5 linked regions of the Homo sapiens genome follow. The protein of the gene in region 1 interacts with the protein of each later gene in a pairwise test. Each region holds a gene or a part of one and is shown in the gene's direction. Other genes may lie near its edges. The genes, in order: TTPA, HSD17B11, FAM25G, FAM25C and NBPF19.

Region 1 (3,516 bases):
GTCTTGGTAGGTGTATATTGATATCTTTTTTTTCCAAAAGGTTTTTAAAGTGGTCATCATCTTTGACTCAGTAATTCTATTTCTGGGAAACTAGCTAAGGAATAATCTTTAATATATTAAAGATTGCGTATAATAATAATAGCTTACTATGTGCCAGGTACTTTGCTAAGTGTTTCAAATGCATTATCTTTTAATGTCCACACTGAGCCTATGACATATGACTATTGTATTTTCCCACTTTACAATTAATAAACTATATCCGAGAAGTGACATAGCGATGCCCAGGCACACACAGTTTGCCAGTAGTGAAGTGAGAATTCCAGCCCAGGTCACCTGAATGTAAAAGTCGTGCTTATAACCACCACTTCTCCTATACACAAAGACAGTTACTGCAGCATCAATTTCAGTAAAGAAGTAAAATAAATAGTTTATTAGTCCAGAAAATAGAAACATGGTTACTTAAAAAATGTACATTCATTTGATGGATTCTTGCAACAATAATAAAACATGATATTTGCAAAAGCTGTATTGTATCAGTGGAACACAACGGGATGAAAATTATTTAGAAAGTATATTAGCAATTATGTTTAAAAGAAAATTATGCATAGAAGGGATTTGGAAGGACAATCCCCAAATTAATAATACATCTCTGAAAGTGATGCATGGAAAAAATAAAAGAACTTCACATAAAAGAACCTTGGAATGAAAGGTCTCTGTATTAATAATACAACTTGTAGGTAGGAAAACCATCTTTTTCCTTCAACTCTTAACTTCTTAAACTTTCTAAATAAGCCTATATTACTTTGATGCTAAAGACATATACCAATGTCAAAGTTTAAAAGTGTGTGTTTATTGTGCTAGTCTTTCAATATTTGTGATTTTTTTTCTCAAAATAAACATTTTTTGGGAAAAAGTTAAATATAAATTTCCAAATGACTCATTGGTTCGTTAAAAGAACATCTATATGTGATGGGAAAGGAATTTTCTGGTGAAAGTGTGCAGATATTTTGTAAAATACTTTGCCAAATCTATAAGGAGAAACCTTTTTAGAGATCTTTACTTAATCTAGTGACAGTGAACTGTAAGCCAGGCTTTTGTGCTGATGGAATAAATAATTTTGAAGATAAAATCACACACTTTAGATATTTCCATAAGCTTAGCAAGTGTTCAAAGAAGAAACTTGACATTAGGTATCAGATTGTAATATTTATGTTTTGTTATTAAGATTTTTTTATTTTCAAAAGGATTCATTTCCATTGAAAGTTCGTGGCATCCATTTGATAAATGAACCAGTAATTTTCCATGCTGTCTTTTCCATGATCAAACCATTCCTGACTGAAAAAATTAAGGAACGGGTGAGTAAAATATATTCAAGTCTGTGTTCCTCTACACCAAACATTCCAACCCTTTTTAATTTAAGGATTGCTTTATCATCTTTCCTCGTACCTGCCCATCTATATCATTAGCCCAATATTTTGAATATTTATCTAACAAGCCAACTAAAAAAAAGTAAATTAAAATTTACTTTTAATTTATAAAAATCAAGTATATTGGTTGTAAGACTGTGGGGTAACTGGGCTTTTCATACACTGCTGGTTGGAATGCTTAATGGTATATTCCTATAGAGGGCAGTGTGGCAAAGACATCAAAATCACTGTCTTGAATTACCTATACCTAAACAAAATTACATATGCTAGAGGAGTCACAGCAGCAGAAGACTGAAAACCAGGAAGTGTTCACCATTAGGGCATTGGTTAAATAAACATCTACACAACAGAAAACAACGAGATTGCAGGATGTTTTGTAAACTGAAATAAACAAAATGTGGAATAGTGTTTATGGCATGCTACCTTTTGTATACAAAGGGGAGAAATAAGAATATATTTCATAAATTTACATTAAAAGGATATACAAAAAATAATATAAGTGGATATCTATAGGGAACAAGAGAAGAGGTGTGAACTACAGTAGATGAGAATAGGTTTGGGAGCAAGATCTCTCACTGTGTATCTTTTATCTTGTTTTGATTTGTAACCATATGAATTTATTATTAATGCAAATAAAAATAAACATTTTTCTTAAACAGTGAAGCCTACTTAACGGTTTCAGTGTAACTGAGAACCACGGTAACTGAGGTATATGACTTAATGTCATGCTAGTTAGAGCAAAGATACTGGATTTTTTCTTCTTTACCTAGCCTATGGAGCCTTATCTCAGAAAAAGCATCTCATATATCTTAGACTTTTTGAAAGGTTGAAAATAGAGTCTGCGTTCTCAAGAATGGCAACCATTCTAAACTAATCTGTAAAGAAGAATTTTTAGAGCATCTATTTAGACAAACATTGGCATCATCTAATGCCTTGAACACAAAACAATTTGTAAAGGTTTTAACAGTTTAAATCTAAAAAATCACTGAAATGTCAGCAGTGATAATATAAACTGTAATAGCACATTTGGAATTTTAGAAACGATGTTCTTTCATATTAAGAAAATATAACATCTTATACCTGGTCAGAAAGTTATGACCCTAGAGCTTCTTTAGAGGTTATGCAGTGGATGCTTCTGTTTGTCTTCAAGAACCACCCTTAAATTGCCTGCTTTAGCAAAAATGGCCACTTTCAGCTACTTTTCATTCTAGTATTTTTATACAAATCAATTTTGTTTGTTCATTTTTTTCTCTCTTCAGTGTAACTTGATAATATCTGGCTTCCCTCTGTTTAATTCTTAGAGATCTAAAAATAACTATTTCTATTTTGAGTAATATTTTAGATAAAAACAAAAACAAGAATAAACTGAACCTAAGAAATAGGAGAATATGGAGAAAAAAGCAAAAGTAAAAAGTTGAGAAGTTAGGGGAAGGATGTCAGTGAAAGTTAGTTGACGGGAAACAGACTTGCCAAAATAGGGAGAAAAAAACTCTGATCCAGCCACTTTTTTCCTTTTTAACTTTTTGGCAATGCCCCATACATTTTCTTATTTTGCCCCTTCCTGAGGAGATAGAATTTCTTCTCAATTACCTGATAATATTTTACATATTTCAGAAAAAATTAAAGATTGGCTTTGTGAGTTTCCTAAGTGAGTATAGGAAACTCATTTCATCCATCAAACCTCATATCCCAGCACATAATAGATGCTTATTAAATGATTGTTGAATACATAGAGGAACATTTTGCCCTAGAAAGTGAAAAAAGGTTATTTATTTATTTTAGCAGGTATGCTTTTGGTTCAAGTTTCTACGGCTTTCTCTTAACTTCAGGGCATTCTATGATCAATTTTATAGTTTAAAATATTTGAAAAGTTAAGGTTCTCAACTATCATAATTGTTTTTTAATACTTTTTTAAAATTTGACTTTTTAATTCTTTTAATTCTTTTTTTTTTTTTAGACAGGGCCTCACTTTGTGCAGTGGCACGATCTTGGCTCACTGCAACCTCCACCTCCTGGGCTCAAGCAATCCTCCTGCCTCAGCCCACCAAGTATCTGGGACTACAGTCCTGCACCACCACGCCCAGCTAAT
Region 2 (3,516 bases), on another chromosome or scaffold:
AGCATCTTAGTTGCTTATGGAACCATAAAAATCTCATATAAGGTATTTTTGCATTGCTACCCCTTGGAATTATGGTACTCCAATCTTATAAAAAGTAGGGCTTAAGCATCAAGATTCTATGATCTTTCTTAGTTGAAGAGATAGTTATTGATTATATTCTAGTCCAGAAGATATAACAATTATTTTGAAAAAAAGTTACATTACCTGTAATGGTCCCCTTTTGAGTATAGTCTTTTTTTTTTTTGAGACAGAGTCTCGCTCTGTCGCTCAGGCTAGAGCACAGTGGCGCAATCTCAGCTCACTGCAACCTCCGCCTCCCGGGTTCAGGCGATTCTCCTGCCTCAGCCTCCTGAGCAGCTGGGATTACAGGTGCACGTCACCACGCCTAGCTAATTTTTGTACTTTTAGTAGAGACTGGGTTTCACCATGTTGGTCAGGCTGGTCTTGAACTCCTGACCTCATGATCCACCTGCCTCAGCCTCCCAAAGTGCTGGGATTACAGGTGTGAGCCACTGTGCCCGGCCTACAAATAGTCTTTTTTTAAAAATATTTTTCTTTCTTTTTGAGACAGAGTCTTGCTCTGTCACCCAGGCGGGCGTGCAATGGTGCAATCTCAGCTCACTGCAACCTCCACCTCCCAGGTGCAAGCAATCCTCCCAGTTCAACCTTCCGAGTAGCTGGGACTACAGGAACCCACCACCACACTCACCTAATTTTTGTGTTTTCAATAGAGATGCAGTTTCACCATGTCAATCAGGCTGGTCTTGAACTCCTGGCCTCAAGTGATCCACCCACCTTGGCCTCCCAAAGTGCTGGGAATATAGATGTGAGCCACCGTGCCCAGCCTACAAATAGTCTTTACAGTCCAGTGGATGCCTTCTATTGCTCTTAGCAGCTAGCCTTGTTCTTTTGTTTATATTTCCTCAACTGAAATCATTTCACCAATGATAGCTGCAACAACCTTTGAAATCTGGCCATAAGGGTTTACATAAGCCCTTCCACATAACCATTTTATTTCTCAAATGTTCTTCCTTCTGGATCAATACCAAAATAGAATTTTCAAGAGAAAACACACATACCATGCATATATATTAGAAAAACACACATATGTATTTTAATATTATTTACCTCATATTTCTATATTTTGGGGGTTTTTTGTTTGTTTTTTGGGTTTTTTTTTTTTTTTTTTTGAGATGAAATCTCGTCTGTCACCCAGGCTGCAGCACAGTGGCACGATCTCAGCTCACTGCAACCTCCGCCTCCTGGGTTCAAGCGATTCTCCTGCCTCAGCCTCTCGAGTAGCTGGGATTACAGGCGTACACCACCATGCCCCACTAATTTTTGTATTTTTAGTAGAGATGGGGTTTCACCATGTGGGTCAGGCTGGTCTCCGATTCCTGACCTCAAGTGATCTGCCTGCCTTGGCCTCCCAAATGCTGGGATTAGAGGCGTGAGCCACCTCATTTGGCCAATATTTGTATATTAAGTACCCTCATAGACACCTGAGCAGGTCAAGAAGAGAATCTTAAAACATGTTACTTGTAGACAAGTATAAATGGTTTTGAAATAATTATAATGATAGTAATAGCAGTTTACTGTGTGTACTAGATACAGTGTTAGCTCCTTTACATGCATTATTTCATTTGTTTCCACAACGACTCACAAGGAACTTGTATTAGTATCTCTATTTTGCAGAGGAAGAATTGAAGTTTTAAGAGGTTAAGTAACTTGGTCAAGGTCCAACAGTGACTGGCAGAGCCCAAACTCAAGGTCCAAGGAAACCACTCTTCACCCTTAAGCCTACTGCCACCTAATGGAGAGCGATTGAACAACAGAACAGAAAATAAACAGAAATAAATAGAAAATGTGGCCAGCTTAATAGTGTAATCAGTTTTCCACAATTCTCTGTAGTAGTCCCTGATTTTGCCACATTAGTTTTACTTTTATTTTTTGAGACGGAGTTTTGCTTTTGTTGCCCAGGCCGGAGTGCGATGGCGCGATCTCAGCTCACCGCAACTTCCGCCTCTCGGGTTCAAGCGATTCTCCTGCCTCAGCCTCCTGAGTAGCTGGGATTATAGGCGCCCGCCACCATGTACAGCTAATTTTGTATTTTTAGTAGAGACAGGGTTTCTCCATGTTGGTCATGCTGGTCTCAAACTCCGGACCACAGGTGATCCACCTGCCTCGGCCTCCCAAAATACTGGGATTACAGGCGTGAGCCACCGCACCCAGCCTAATTTAACTTTTTTTGCTTACCCTTTGAAGTAATGTTTTAAAAAAAATGCTACTTAGCCAAATGCCTCTTGATCTATAGTCAATAGAACTAAGTCAAGAGACTAAATTGCAAAAGAAAATTTCCACCTGATACACTTGAAGATAGATCTATTTTGGACATAAGTGCATAAAATAAAAAGGATTTTTTTCCCCTGTTGACACATGGATTGCAAAATCACTTTTATCCAGATCTAGCAGAAAAACAAGAGTCATTGCGTACAAGACGGGAACAGTGACTCATGCCTGTAATCCCAGCACTTTGGGAGGCTGAGGTGGGCAGATCACTTGAGATCAGGAGTTCAAGACTAGCCTAGCTAACATGGTGAAATCCAATCTCTACTAAAAATATAAAAATTAGCCAGGTGTGGCGTGGTTGCATGAGCCTTCAGTCCCTGCTACTTGGGAAGCTGAGGCCAGAGAATCTCTTGAACCCGGGAGGTGGAGGTTGCAGTGAGCCAAGATTTCGCCACTGTACTGCAGCCTGGGCAACAGAGCAAGAATCCGTCTCAAAAAAAAAAAATAGCCATTGTGTATAAACTTACCCTCATACCTCTTAATGAATTTACTTTTCTTATTTTATTTTTTGAAGGTGAAGGCAGAAATTGGAGATGTTAGTATTTTAGTAAATAATGCTGGTGTAGTCTATACATCAGATTTGTTTGCTACACAAGATCCTCAGATTGAAAAGACTTTTGAAGTTAATGTACTTGCACATTTCTGGGTGAGTATGGCTTCTTTTACAAAAATGTTCCTTTTGAAAATCCCAAAGATTAAAGTGGGGCTTTTAGCAGACATAAGGAAGTATTAAATCAATGCTAAAGTTTTCTCCAGGCACCAGGGATAACATTATACAAAGAGATCATTTTTCATGCTATGACCAAATTCTATCATTCTTCCTCACTGACAACATTAATAATAACAATAATAAATTAATAATAAATGTCAGGTGTTGTATATGTTTTAATTCTAAGCTAGGTTCTCACATTTCTGTGTGATCCTATTTAGAGATAAAGAAAGGAGTTGGGGACCATCCGAGTCATCGTCTGTGATTTTATAAAGGTGAATCCAGTTTGCTTTCAGATTCTCTTTTTTCTTTTTTAGACAGGGTCTCACTCTGTTGCCAAGGCTGGAGTGCAGTGATGCAATCTCATCTCACTGCAGCCCCAACTTCCCAGGCTCAAGTGATCCTCCCACCTCAGCCCCCTCAAGTAGCTGGGACTACAGGCATTAACATGCCCAGCT
Region 3 (4,054 bases), on another chromosome or scaffold:
ACTAATCAGGCCCCGACACATCCAGGAGAGCAGCTCCAGGAGCCTGCATTGGGGAGAGAGCCTCAGACCCCTGCCACAGGCCTGCACCCCAGAAGTAGGAGCATGGGAAGACCTCTCCTTGGCTCCTGGCCAGCAGAAGTCACATTCCCCAGCCCTCTGGCTCCAAGGCAGCCTCACGTCCCAGTCACTCCTTGGCACACCCTACCAGTTGGTCAGAGCTCACTGCCAAAGGGCACCTCAATGATGAGTGGAGGGAACAGGTGTTTACCAGGAGCTTGCATGCTTTGCCTCAGGGATGATTAGGGACACAGCCAAGAAGGCACGCTATGCCCATTTTACAGATGAGGAAACGGAGGCTCAGGTTGGGCTGGTGACTAAGGGAAGCAGCATGTGGCAGGTGGCTTGAGGCATGTCTGTCCATCATGAGTAACTAGGGAGCAGCCCTGCCACTCCTCATGCGATGCACCAGGAGCCAGGGAAGCTGCTTCCTAGGGGATTCTAGCTAAGGCCAGAAGCATCTCCCTGAGTGGTGGTGGAGGCCTCTGTCTACTCCTCCAGGACTGCCAGGGGATAGGAGGGCACTGCTGACCTCACAGAGCCTCTTGGGTGAGTGAGCATCAGCTGAGCGACACCAGGTGACTACGCTTCTGCCCAGTGCTGTGCCCCCCTCTGACTCGGGCAAGGCACCACCCTGAACGCCCCACCCTGTCCCATGGAGGCCGCAAACTGCTCTGCAGAGCCAGGGTCTCCAGGAATGGGGAGGGCAGTCACCCTCATTCCACTTGTGTTCATGACTCAAAGGACTGCCCAGGTCTCCAGGCCCATAGAACCCCCAAACCTCTTACTAGGCCACACTGGGGACCTTGAGCAGCAGGCTTGGAATCCTAGGCCTTGTCTCCAGGTACATATCAGTACCCAGGCTTGGGAAGCTTTGGTCTCAGGGGGGCTGGCACTCAGGCCCTCTGCCTCAAGGAAGAAGCATGTCCAGATCTCTACTGTCCAGCCCTGCTCCCTGCCCCTATCCTTCACGGGGTCCCTAGGACAGGGTTACAGAAGCCTCATGCTGTCAGGGGATGCTGCCACCCTAGTTCCAGGGTGGCTCCGCCCAGCCCCTTCCTGCTGCCGCCCTCACTGACTCACCTGTCCAGCCTCCTACTGGGCTGGGGTGAGGGCTTATTGCCCCAGAGCCTAGATAGGCACCAGAGGCAGCTATAAAAGCATGTTGGGCCAGTCCTCAGCATCCTAGTTCGCCACTGTCTGCTGCCACACGATGCTGGGAGGCCTGGGGAAGCTGGCTGCCGAGGGCCTGGCCCACCGCACCGAGAAGGCCACCGAGGGAGCCAGTGAGGACCCAGGGCTCCTTTCTACCTGGGCTGGGGGGATCTGGGGCAGACTGGGTCTGTGGGAGGCGGATCTACGTAGGCAGGCGAGGACCTGCGGGGAGGCCTTGGCCCCTCAGGAACCCTGGTCTCCTGCTCTACCAAGTCAGCACGGAGTTGAGGGGTGCAGACCTGGGGAGGTCTCCTGGGGGCAGGGCATGAGTCCTGGTGCTGGGTGAACACTGGCAGCTTGGACCCTTCCCTCTGGAAATCTGGGGAGCCTTTCTTGTCAAAACAGCCTATTCTGAATAACCTATGCAGGAAAAGGAAGATGGATTTTTATTTTTACCATAACTTTAAAGCTTCAAAGATTTCTTAACAAGTCACCAAGTCTGTTCAAAGTCAAAAAGGGCATTTTCAATTTCATCCAAGTCCCCTAAAGCATGTTTATTTTTATTTGTATTTGTATTTGAAATGGAGTCTTGCTCTGGCACCCAGGCTGGAGTGTAGTGGTGCGATCTCGGCTCACTGTAACCTTTGCCTCCTGGGTTCAAAGTGATTCTCATGCCTCAGCCTCCTGAGTAGCTGGGATTACAGGCACCCACCACCACGCCCGACTAATTTTTGTATTTTTAGCAGAGACGGGGTTTCGCCATTTTGGCCAGGCTGGTCTCAAACTCCTGACCTCAAGTGATCCATTCCTCTTGGCCTCCCAAAGTGCTGGGATTACAGGCGTGAACCACTGCACCTGGTCCCGAAGTGTATGTTGTATTCAGAGGTCAGCAGGTATGTGTGGGGAGGCCCAGCCAGGCCCCACTCATGGGTCATCGTGTGAAAAAGTCTTGCCTGAGTTTGTGTCCTCTTTCTAAATGGCAGCAGATGCGTATTTTGTTTTTGACTCTGCAGCTGGTGTGGACCACCTGCTTTAACCTTTCACTAGCCTCTGAGTTTTTTATGATTCCTGTTGGGAGAAAAGCTCAGCGTTGGGAGAAAAGCTGAGGCAGGGCTTGCTAGACTTGCTGGCTCCTTGCTTCTAGCACTGCCATTCTCTCAAGTAGCCATATGTTTCTCATTCACTTGATACACTGTTTCCTTTCAACCTCCACATCCTCACCACCTGTTTCTTTGTTAGATCACCAATAAATAGCGTGGGCTCCCAGAACTCGGGGCCTTCGCAGCCTCCACACTCGCGATAGCGCCCTGCTCCCATTTTCTCTCTCGAACTGTCTCTTTGTCATTCCTTTGACTCCGCTGGACTTGCCGCCCCCGTGACCTGGTGTTGGGTCTCATCATCCCAACAGATTCCCATTCTAAAGATGAGGGAACCAAGAGGTGGAAGGTAGAGTTAGAATAAGAACCATTTCTTCTGACTCTGAAATCCTTCAGTTCTAGCACGCTACCACCCACACTTTAAAAAACTCTGAAGTAGGCAGAGAATTCCGTTTTGTTGGAGGAATTGCTTTGAGAGACCTGGTCTTAGTGGATGAGGCTTTGGAAACCAACCTGAGGCAGGCGCTAGCACATCCTGAGAGGGGTGTGACCTGGCACACAGGCCCAGCCTGGGCTTCATGTCTCAGCTGGCAAGACTGCCTGCTCATTGCCATTCCAGGCCGGGCAGGGCCAAGGGGCTTCAGGGACCCATGCCCTCATGGGGCTCATTGAGCTCGTCTCCCAGCAGCCAAGGCCCTGGCGTCTCCAAATGAAGCCAGCTGTGGGGGAAGGTCCTTCTCATGAGTCAGTCTGTCCTGGCTGGGGGTGGCACCCCAGAGCCCCATCTAGGATGCCCAGGGATGTATAGGTCTGTTGTGAGGATAAGCCAGCCCTGAGCCCTCACCCTGGACTGGGAGGGCAGTGGGCCTGCTCTGAGCCCTCACCCTGGACTGGGAGGGCAGCGGCTCTGCTCTGAACCCTCACCCTGGACTCGGGGGCAGCCGGCCTGCTCTGAGCCCTCACCCTGGACTTGTCTCCTCTGTTCAGTTCATGCCGTGGAGGAAGTGGTGAAGGAGGTGGTGGGACATGCCAAGGAGACTGGAGAGAAAGGTACAGCCGGCTGAGGTCGGGCAGGGAAGGAGGGAGGGAGGAAGGGAAGCTAGGTGCTGGGCCAACCTGTTCTTTGACTAACCAGGTCAAACTCTGCCCCTAATGTTGCAGCCTTTCAGAGCCTCTTGGCTGGGGCAGTTATCTATGCTCATCAGAGGCCACAGACTGTACTGCGTTAGGACACTGTCTAGATGGTTCTCTCTGTGGAATAAGAAGACAAAGTCACACAAGACTATGTGACAGCACACTGGGACAAAACATTTAACATGGCAGGGTGCGGTGGCTCATGCCTGTAATCCCAGCACTTTGGGAGGCTGAGGAGGGCGGATCATGAGGTCAGGAGATCGAGACCATCCTGGCTAACACGGTGAAACCCCGTCTCTACTAAAAATACATAAAAATTAGCCGGGCATGGTGGTGGGTGCCTATAGTCCCAGCTACTTGGGAGGCTGAGGCAGGAGAATGGTGTGTACCTGGGAGGCAGAGCTTGCAGTGAGCCTAGATCATGCCACTGCACTCCAGCCTGGGCTACAGAGCAAGACTCGGTCTCAAAAAAAAAGAAAAAAATAATTGCTGGGGGCGGTGGCTCACGCCTGTAATCCCAGCACTTTGGGAGGCTGAGGTGGGCGGATCATGAGGTCAGGAGATCCAGACCACGGTGAAACCGCATCTCTACTAAAAATACAAAAAATTAG
Region 4 (4,069 bases), on another chromosome or scaffold:
AGGGCCCACAGTCCAGTAAACTAATCAGGCCCCGACACATCCAGGAGAGCAGCTCCAGGAGCCTGCATTGGGGAGAGAGCCTCAGACCCCTGCCACAGGCCTGCACCCCAGAAGTAGGAGCATGGGAAGACCTCTCCTTGGCTCCTGGCCAGCAGAAGTCACATTCCCCAGCCCTCTGGCTCCAAGGCAGCCTCACGTCCCAGTCACTCCTTGGCACACCCTACCAGTTGGTCAGAGCTCACTGCCAAAGGGCACCTCAATGATGAGTGGAGGGAACAGGTGTTTACCAGGAGCTTGCATGCTTTGTCTCAGGGATGATTAGGGACACAGCCAAGAAGACACGCTATGCCCATTTTACAGATGAGGAAACGGAGGCTCAGGTTGGGCTGGTGACTAAGGGAAGCAGCATGTGGCAGGTGGCTTGAGGCATGTCTGTCCATCATGAGTAACTAGGGAGCAGCCCTGCCACTCCTCATGCGATGCACCAGGAGCCAGGGAAGCTGCTTCCTAGGGGATTCTAGCTAAGGCCAGAAGCATCTCCCTGAGTGGTGGTGGAGGCCTCTGTCTACTCCTCCAGGACTGCCAGGGGATAGGAGGGCACTGCTGACCTCACAGAGCCTCTTGGGTGAGTGAGCATCAGCTGAGTGACACCAGGTGACTACGCTTCTGCCCAGTGCTGTGCCCCCCTCTGACTCGGGCAAGGCACCACCCTGAACGCCCCACCCTGTCCCATGGAGGCCGCAAACTGCTCTGCAGAGCCAGGGTCTCCAGGAATGGGGAGGGCAGTCACCCTCATTCCACTTGTGTTCATGACCCAAAGGACTGCCCAGGTCTCCAGGCCCATAGAACCCCCAAACCTCTTACTAGGCCACACTGGGGACCTTGAGCAGCAGGCTTGGAATCCTAGGCCTTGTCTCCAGGTACATATCAGTACCCAGGCTTGGGAAGCTTTGGTCTCAGGGGGGCTGGCACTCAGGCCCTCTGCCTCAAGGAAGAAGCATGTCCAGATCTCTACTGTCCAGCCCTGCTCCCTGCCCCTATCCTTCACGGGGTCCCTAGGACAGGGTTACAGAAGCCTCATGCTGTCAGGGGATGCTGCCACCCTAGTTCCAGGGTGGCTCCGCCCAGCCCCTTCCTGCTGCCGCCCTCACTGACTCACCTGTCCAGCCTCCTACTGGGCTGGGGTGAGGGCTTATTGCCCCAGAGCCTAGACAGACACCAGAGGCAGCTATAAAAGCATGTTGGGCCAGTCCTCAGCATCCTAGTTCGCCACTGTCTGCTGCCACACGATGCTGGGAGGCCTGGGGAAGCTGGCTGCCGAGGGCCTGGCCCACCGCACCGAGAAGGCCACCGAGGGAGCCAGTGAGGACCCGGGGCTCCTTTCTACCTGGGCTGGGGGGATCTGGGGCAGACTGGGTCTGTGGGAGGCGGATCTACGTAGGCAGGCGAGGACCTGCGGGGAGGCCTTGGCCCCTCAGGAACCCTGGTCTCCTGCTCTACCAAGTCAGCACGGAGTTGAGGGGTGCAGACCTGGGGAGGTCTCCTGGGGGCAGGGCATGAGTCCTGGTGCTGGGTGAACACTGGCAGCTTGGACCCTTCCCTCTGGAAATCTGGGGAGCCTTTCTTGTCAAAACAGCCTATTCTGAATAACCTATGCAGGAAAAGGAAGATGGATTTTTATTTTTACCATAACTTTAAAGCTTCAAAGATTTCTTAACAAGTCACCAAGTCTGTTCAAAGTCAAAAAGGGCATTTTCAATTTCATCCAAGTCCCCTAAAGCATGTTTATTTTTATTTGTATTTGTATTTGAAATGGAGTCTTGCTCTGGCACCCAGGCTGGAGTGTAGTGGTGCGATCTCGGCTCACTGTAACCTTTGCCTCCTGGGTTCAAAGTGATTCTCATGCCTCAGCCTCCTGAGTAGCTGGGATTACAGGCACCCACCACCACGCCCGACTAATTTTTGTATTTTTAGCAGAGACGGGGTTTCGCCATTTTGGCCAGGCTGGTCTCAAACTCCTGCCCTCAAGTGATCCATTCCTCTTGGCCTCCCAAAGTGCTGGGATTACAGGCGTGAACCACTGCACCTGGTCCCGAAGTGTATGTTGTATTCAGAGGTCAGCAGGTATGTGTGGGGAGGCCCAGCCAGGCCCCACTCATGGGTCATCGTGTGAAAAAGTCTTGCCTGAGTTTGTGTCCTCTTTCTAAATGGCAGCAGATGCGTATTTTGTTTTTGACTCTGCAGCTGGTGTGGACCACCTGCTTTAACCTTTCACTAGCCTCTGAGTTTTCTATGATTCCTGTTGGGAGAAAAGCTGAGTGTTGGGAGAAAAGCTGAGGCAGGGCTTGCTAGACTTGCTGGCTCCTTGCTTCTAGCACTGCCATTCTCTCAAGTAGCCATATGTTTCTCATTCACTTGATACACTGTTGCCTTTCAACCTCCACATCCTCACCACCTGTTTCTTTGTTAGATCACCAATAAATAGCGTGGGCTCCCAGAACTCGGGGCCTTCGCAGCCTCCACACTCGCGATAGCGCCCTGCTCCCATTTTCTCTCTCGAACTGTCTCTTTCTCATTCCTTTGACTCCGCTGGACTTGCCGCCCCCGTGACCTGGTGTTGGGTCTCATCATCCCAACAGATTCCCATTCTAAAGATGAGGGAACCAAGAGGTGGAAGGTAGAGTTAGAATAAGAACCATTTCTTCTGACTCTGAAATCCTTCAGTTCTAGCACACTACCACCCACACTTTAAAAAACTCTGAAGTAGGCAGAGAATTCCGTTTTGTTGGAGGAATTGCTTTGAGAGACCTGGTCTTAGTGGATGAGGCTTTGGAAACCAACCTGAGGCAGGCGCTAGCACATCCTGAGAGGGGTGTGACCTGGCACACAGGCCCAGCCTGGGTTTCATGTCTCAGCTGGCAAGACTGCCTGCTCATTGCCATTCCAGGCCGGGCAGGGCCAAGGGGCTTCAGGGACCCATGCCCTCATGGGGCTCACTGAGCTCGTCTCCCGGTAGCCAAGGCCCTGGCGTCTCCAAATGAAGCCAGCTGTGGGGGAAGGTCCTTCTCATGAGCCAGTCTGTCCTGGCTGGGGGTGGCATCCCAGAGCCCCATCTAGGATGCCCAGGGATGTATAGGTCTGTTGTGAGGATAAGCCAGCCCTGAGCCCTCACCCTGGACTGGGAGGGCAGTGGGCCTGCTCTGAGCCCTCACCCTGGACTGGGAGGGCAGCGGCTCTGCTCTGAACCCTCACCCTGGACTCAGGGGCAGCCGGCCTGCTCTGAGCCCTCACCCTGGACTTGTCTCCTCTGTTCAGTTCATGCCGTGGAGGAAGTGGTGAAGGAGGTGGTGGGACATGCCAAGGAGACTGGAGAGAAAGGTACAGCCGGCTGAGGTCGGGCAGGGAAGGAGGGAGGGAGGAAGGGAAGCTAGGTGCTGGGCCAACCTGTTCTTTGACTAACCAGGTCAAACTCTGCCCCTAATGTTGCAGCCTTTCAGAGCCTCTTGGCTGGGGCAGTTATCTATGCTCATCAGAGGCCACAGACCGTACTGCGTTAGGACACTGTCTAGATGGTTCTCTCTGTGGAATAAGAAGACAAAGTCACACAAGACTATGTGACAGCACACTGGGACAAAACATTTAACATGGCAGGGCACGGTGGCTCATGCCTGTAATCCCAGCACTTTGGGAGGCTGAGGAGGGCGGATCACGAGGTCAGGAGATCGAGACCATCCTGGCTAACACGGTGAAACCCCGTCTCTACTAAAAATACATAAAAATTAGCCGGGCATGGTGGTGGGTGCCTATAGTCCCAGCTACTTGGGAGGCTGAGGCAGGAGAATGGTGTGTACCTGGGAGGCAGAGCTTGCAGTGAGCCTAGATCATGCCACTGCACTCCAGCCTGGGCTACAGAGCGAAACTCGGTCTCAAAAAAATTGCTGGGGGCGGTGGCTCACGCCTGTAATCCCAGCACTTTGGGAGGCTGAGGTGGGCGGATCATGAGGTCAGGAGATCCAGACCACGGTGAAACCCCATCTCTACTAAAAATACAAAAAATTAGCTGGGCACG
Region 5 (3,516 bases), on another chromosome or scaffold:
GGTCTTCCAGATAGGGGTGATATTCCTGTTCCAAGTGGCCCTTACTGACCCGAGAGATGTCATTGCCGCAGGCAGGACCTATGGGCGCATATAGGTTGTAATGAAACTGTAGTCTCAGTTGGAAGCCTAGACATGAAATGGGTCAGTGAGCAAGGCTCTATTCCTAGTCTCCAGCCATGCCTGTGGCAACCTGAGCCCGCTCTCAGCACATTGGACCCAGGCAGATGTAAAAAATTCACAGAACTATGATTTGGACTCAAGGGTTTGTAGATTTCCTCCTTCATTCTAATTTCAGTGTCTAAAATTCTTACATCCATGAACGAGCTGGGCATTTGATGAGACAGGGCTGAATACTGCAGTTTTCCTCCTAGAAATCATCTGGGGCATTTTCTTTGAACTGATGGGAACAATAAGGCATAACTGTTTGCACAAACTTGGGATAAGTGATTTTGGGATAACGATCTTCCAGAATGGGGATATTTCACCCTTGGTTCTGAGATGCAAACCAAAGAATATCATGACCAGCTTTCAGGCCTCCTGAAGTATATCTCTCACATTGTCCTGTTCTCATGCTGAGGAGCCTGAGATCCCTGTGTGGGGATTAGACAGTGGACTGTTATGGGTGTAGGTGAATTGGCTTATTTTGTCTGTCCCTGTCTGAATGTATTGCAGGAATTAAAAAGGACCAAGAAGAGGAAGAAGACCAAGGCCCACCATGCCCCAGGTAACTGAGCAATTGTGAACAGCTACTTCTGTGTTGACATCTGGAGACTCCTGGTTCAGGGAAAACAGAGCGGGCTGACATTATCGATTACATCTTTTCAAGCAAGCCTGAATTATTCCTACTAACATTGCTGTTGGTTTTCATTGCAGTAGATATTTAGGTTTCCATTTCTTCCTCCCCTTATCATTTACTAACCTACTGTAGGTGGACCAGACTTCAAAAACTGTATTCTCATGGCGACTGCATGGAAACTTGAACACATTTTATGGAAAATTATTGAGCACAGTCTTTTCATGATCACTGTATGCTGTGTGTCCTGAGGGCACTAACTCAGAGTGTCCTGTTACTCCCTCATCAGTGTGTCACCTGGACAATTCACTGAGCTCGTTCTCTCTCTCTCTGTGTGTGTGTCTGTGTGTGTGTGTGTGTCTATCTGTCTTTCTCTTTCATTCTTTTCCATTTGGCCCTGTTCTGTCCCAACATGAAGGCAATAATTTGTTACCTCATTAATGGATCTATCCTTTTACTTTCTTAACCACTTCCTTATGCTACCCATGAAACCTAGTTGGGGCTCTGTTGTGTGTGATTTCCCCTGGCTTATTCTTTACTTTTTCCTCCTTTTCCAGGCTCAGCAGGGAGCTGCTGGAGGTAGTAGAGCCTGAAGTCTTGCAGGACTCACTGGATAGATGTTATTCAACTCCTTCCAGTTGTCTTGAACAGCCTGACTCCTGCCAGCCCTATGGAAGTTCCTTTTATGCATTGGAGGAAAAACATGTTGGCTTTTCTCTTGACGTGGGAGGTGAGTACCTTTCTATGAAGGTGATAAGCATCCACTGAGTCTTCCATATAAAGATCATATTCCTGCTCCAAGTGGCCATTACTGAGCTGAGAGATGTCATTGCCGCAGTGAGGACCTATAGGCACATGTAGGTTGAATGAAACTCTAGTTCTACCTGGAAGCCCAGACATGGGATGGGTCAGTGAGCATGGCTCTCTTCCTAGTCTCAGGCCATACCTGTGGCACTCTGATTCTACTCTCATGACATTGGACCTGGGCAGATGTGACAAATTCAGAGAACTATGATTTTGACTCAAGGGTTTGTAGATTTCCTTTTTCACTCTAATTTCAGTGTCTAAAGTCCTCACAACCATGAACAATCTGAGTATTTGATGAGACAGGGCTAAATATTGCAGTTTTTCTCCCAGAAATCATTTGAGGGTATTTGCTTTAAATTGATTGGAAAAATATGGCATAACTGTTTGCACAAACTTGGGACAAATGATATTGGGATAACGATCTACTAGAATAGGGACATTTTACCCACAGTTTCTGGGAGAAAAACCGAGGAATTTCTATCATGACCAGCCTTCAGGCCTCCTGAAATATATCTCTCACAGTGTCCTATTCTTATGCTGAGGAGCCTGAGGTCCCTGTGTGAGGATTAGACAGTGGATTGTTATGTGTGTAGGGGAATCAGCTTAATGTGTCTGTCCATGTCTGAATTTATTGCAGAAATTGAAAAGAAGGGGAAGGGGAAGAAAAGAAGGGGAAGAAGATCAAAGAAGGAAAGAAGAAGGGGAAGAAAAGAAGGGGAAGAAGATCAAAACCCACCATGCCCCAGGTGACTTTCAGCAATTGTGGATGCTTAATTCTGTGTTAACACCTGGAGGCAACAGATTCAGGGAAACCAGAGTGTGTTTGATGTCATGTTTTCAACGAAGGCTGAATTACTCCTACTGTCATTGCTGTTGGTTTTCATTGCAGTAGATGTTTAGGTTTCCATTTCTTCCTCCCCTTATCATTTACTAGCGTACCATAGGTTGACCATACTTCAAAAGCTGTACTCTCATGGCCACTGCATCGAATTTTGAGCATATTTTATGGAAAACTATTGAGCTCACTCTTTTCATGATCACAGTTTGCTGTGTGTCATGAGGGCACTAACTCAGAGTGTCCTTTTACTCCCTTACCAGTATGTCACCTGGCCAATTCACTAGGTCACTTTCTCTCTGTCTCTGTCTCTGTCTCTCTCTCTCTGTCTTTCTCTTTCATTGTTTTCTACCTGGCCCTGTTCTATCCCAACATAAAGGCAATAAATTTTTTTTTTTACCTCATTAATGGATCTATCCTTTTTCTTTTCTAACCACTTCCTTATGTGACTTCTGAAATCTAGTGGGGCTCTGTGGTGTCTGATTTTCCCTGGCTGCTTCTTTAGTTTTGTCTCCTTTTCCAGGCTCAACAGCGTGCTGATGGAAGTGGAAGAGCCTGAAGTCTTACAGGACTCACTGGATGGATGTTATTCGACTCCGTCAATGTACTTTGAACTACCTGACTCATTCCAGCACTACAGAAGTGTGTTTTACTCATTTGAGGAAGAGCATATCAGCTTCGCCCTTTACTTGGACAATAGGTTTTTTACTTTGACGGTGACAAGTCTCCATCTGGTGTTCCAGATGTTAGTCATATTCCCACAATAGGCAGCCCTTACTAAGCCGAGAGATGTCATTCCTGCAGGCAGGACCTATAGGCACGTGAAGATTTGAATGAAACTACAGTTCCATTTGGAAGCCCAGACATAGGATGGGTCAGTGGGCATGGCTCTTTTCCTATTCTCAAACCATGCCAGTGGCAACCTGTGCTCAGTCTGAAGACAATGGACCCACGTTAGGTGTGACACGTTCACATAACTGTGCAGCACATGCCGGGAGTGATCAGTCGGACATTTTAATTTGAACCACGTATCTTTGGGTAGCTACAAAATTCCTCAGGGATTTCATTTTGCAGGCATGTC

Evidence for each region.
Region 2: the proteins of TTPA (region 1) and HSD17B11 interact in binary tests that used the Homo sapiens proteins (3 or more experiments, as listed by UniProt).
Region 3: the proteins of TTPA (region 1) and FAM25G interact in a two-hybrid assay, tested with the Homo sapiens proteins (one large-scale study listed by BioGRID).
Region 4: the proteins of TTPA (region 1) and FAM25C interact in a two-hybrid assay, tested with the Homo sapiens proteins (one large-scale study listed by BioGRID).
Region 5: the proteins of TTPA (region 1) and NBPF19 interact in a two-hybrid assay, tested with the Homo sapiens proteins (one large-scale study listed by BioGRID).

What each region holds. Positions count from the first base shown.
Region 1 is NC_000008.11:63,062,045-63,065,560, reverse strand, and holds part of TTPA (alpha-tocopherol transfer protein), read left to right. Parts: intron 1-1,244; coding exon 1,245-1,355; intron 1,356-3,384; coding exon of another isoform or gene 3,385-3,516.
Region 2 is NC_000004.12:87,374,178-87,377,693, reverse strand, and holds part of HSD17B11 (estradiol 17-beta-dehydrogenase 11 precursor), read left to right. Parts: intron 1-2,863; coding exon 2,864-2,995; intron 2,996-3,279; coding exon of another isoform or gene 3,280-3,285; exon of another isoform or gene 3,286-3,300; intron 3,301-3,516. UniProt on the Homo sapiens protein: Can convert androstan-3-alpha,17-beta-diol (3-alpha-diol) to androsterone in vitro, suggesting that it may participate in androgen metabolism during steroidogenesis.
Region 3 is NC_000010.11:47,488,891-47,492,944, reverse strand, and holds the start of FAM25G (protein FAM25G), read left to right. Parts: upstream 1-1,244; 5' UTR 1,245-1,270; coding exon 1,271-1,343; intron 1,344-3,296; coding exon 3,297-3,359; intron 3,360-4,054.
Region 4 is NC_000010.11:47,996,986-48,001,054, reverse strand, and holds the start of FAM25C (protein FAM25C), read left to right. Parts: upstream 1-1,263; 5' UTR 1,264-1,289; coding exon 1,290-1,362; intron 1,363-3,315; coding exon 3,316-3,378; intron 3,379-4,069.
Region 5 is NC_000001.11:149,551,537-149,555,052, forward strand, and holds part of NBPF19 (NBPF family member NBPF19), read left to right. Parts: intron 1-672; coding exon 673-724; intron 725-1,350; coding exon 1,351-1,523; intron 1,524-2,237; coding exon 2,238-2,346; intron 2,347-2,958; coding exon 2,959-3,202; 3' UTR 3,203-3,516.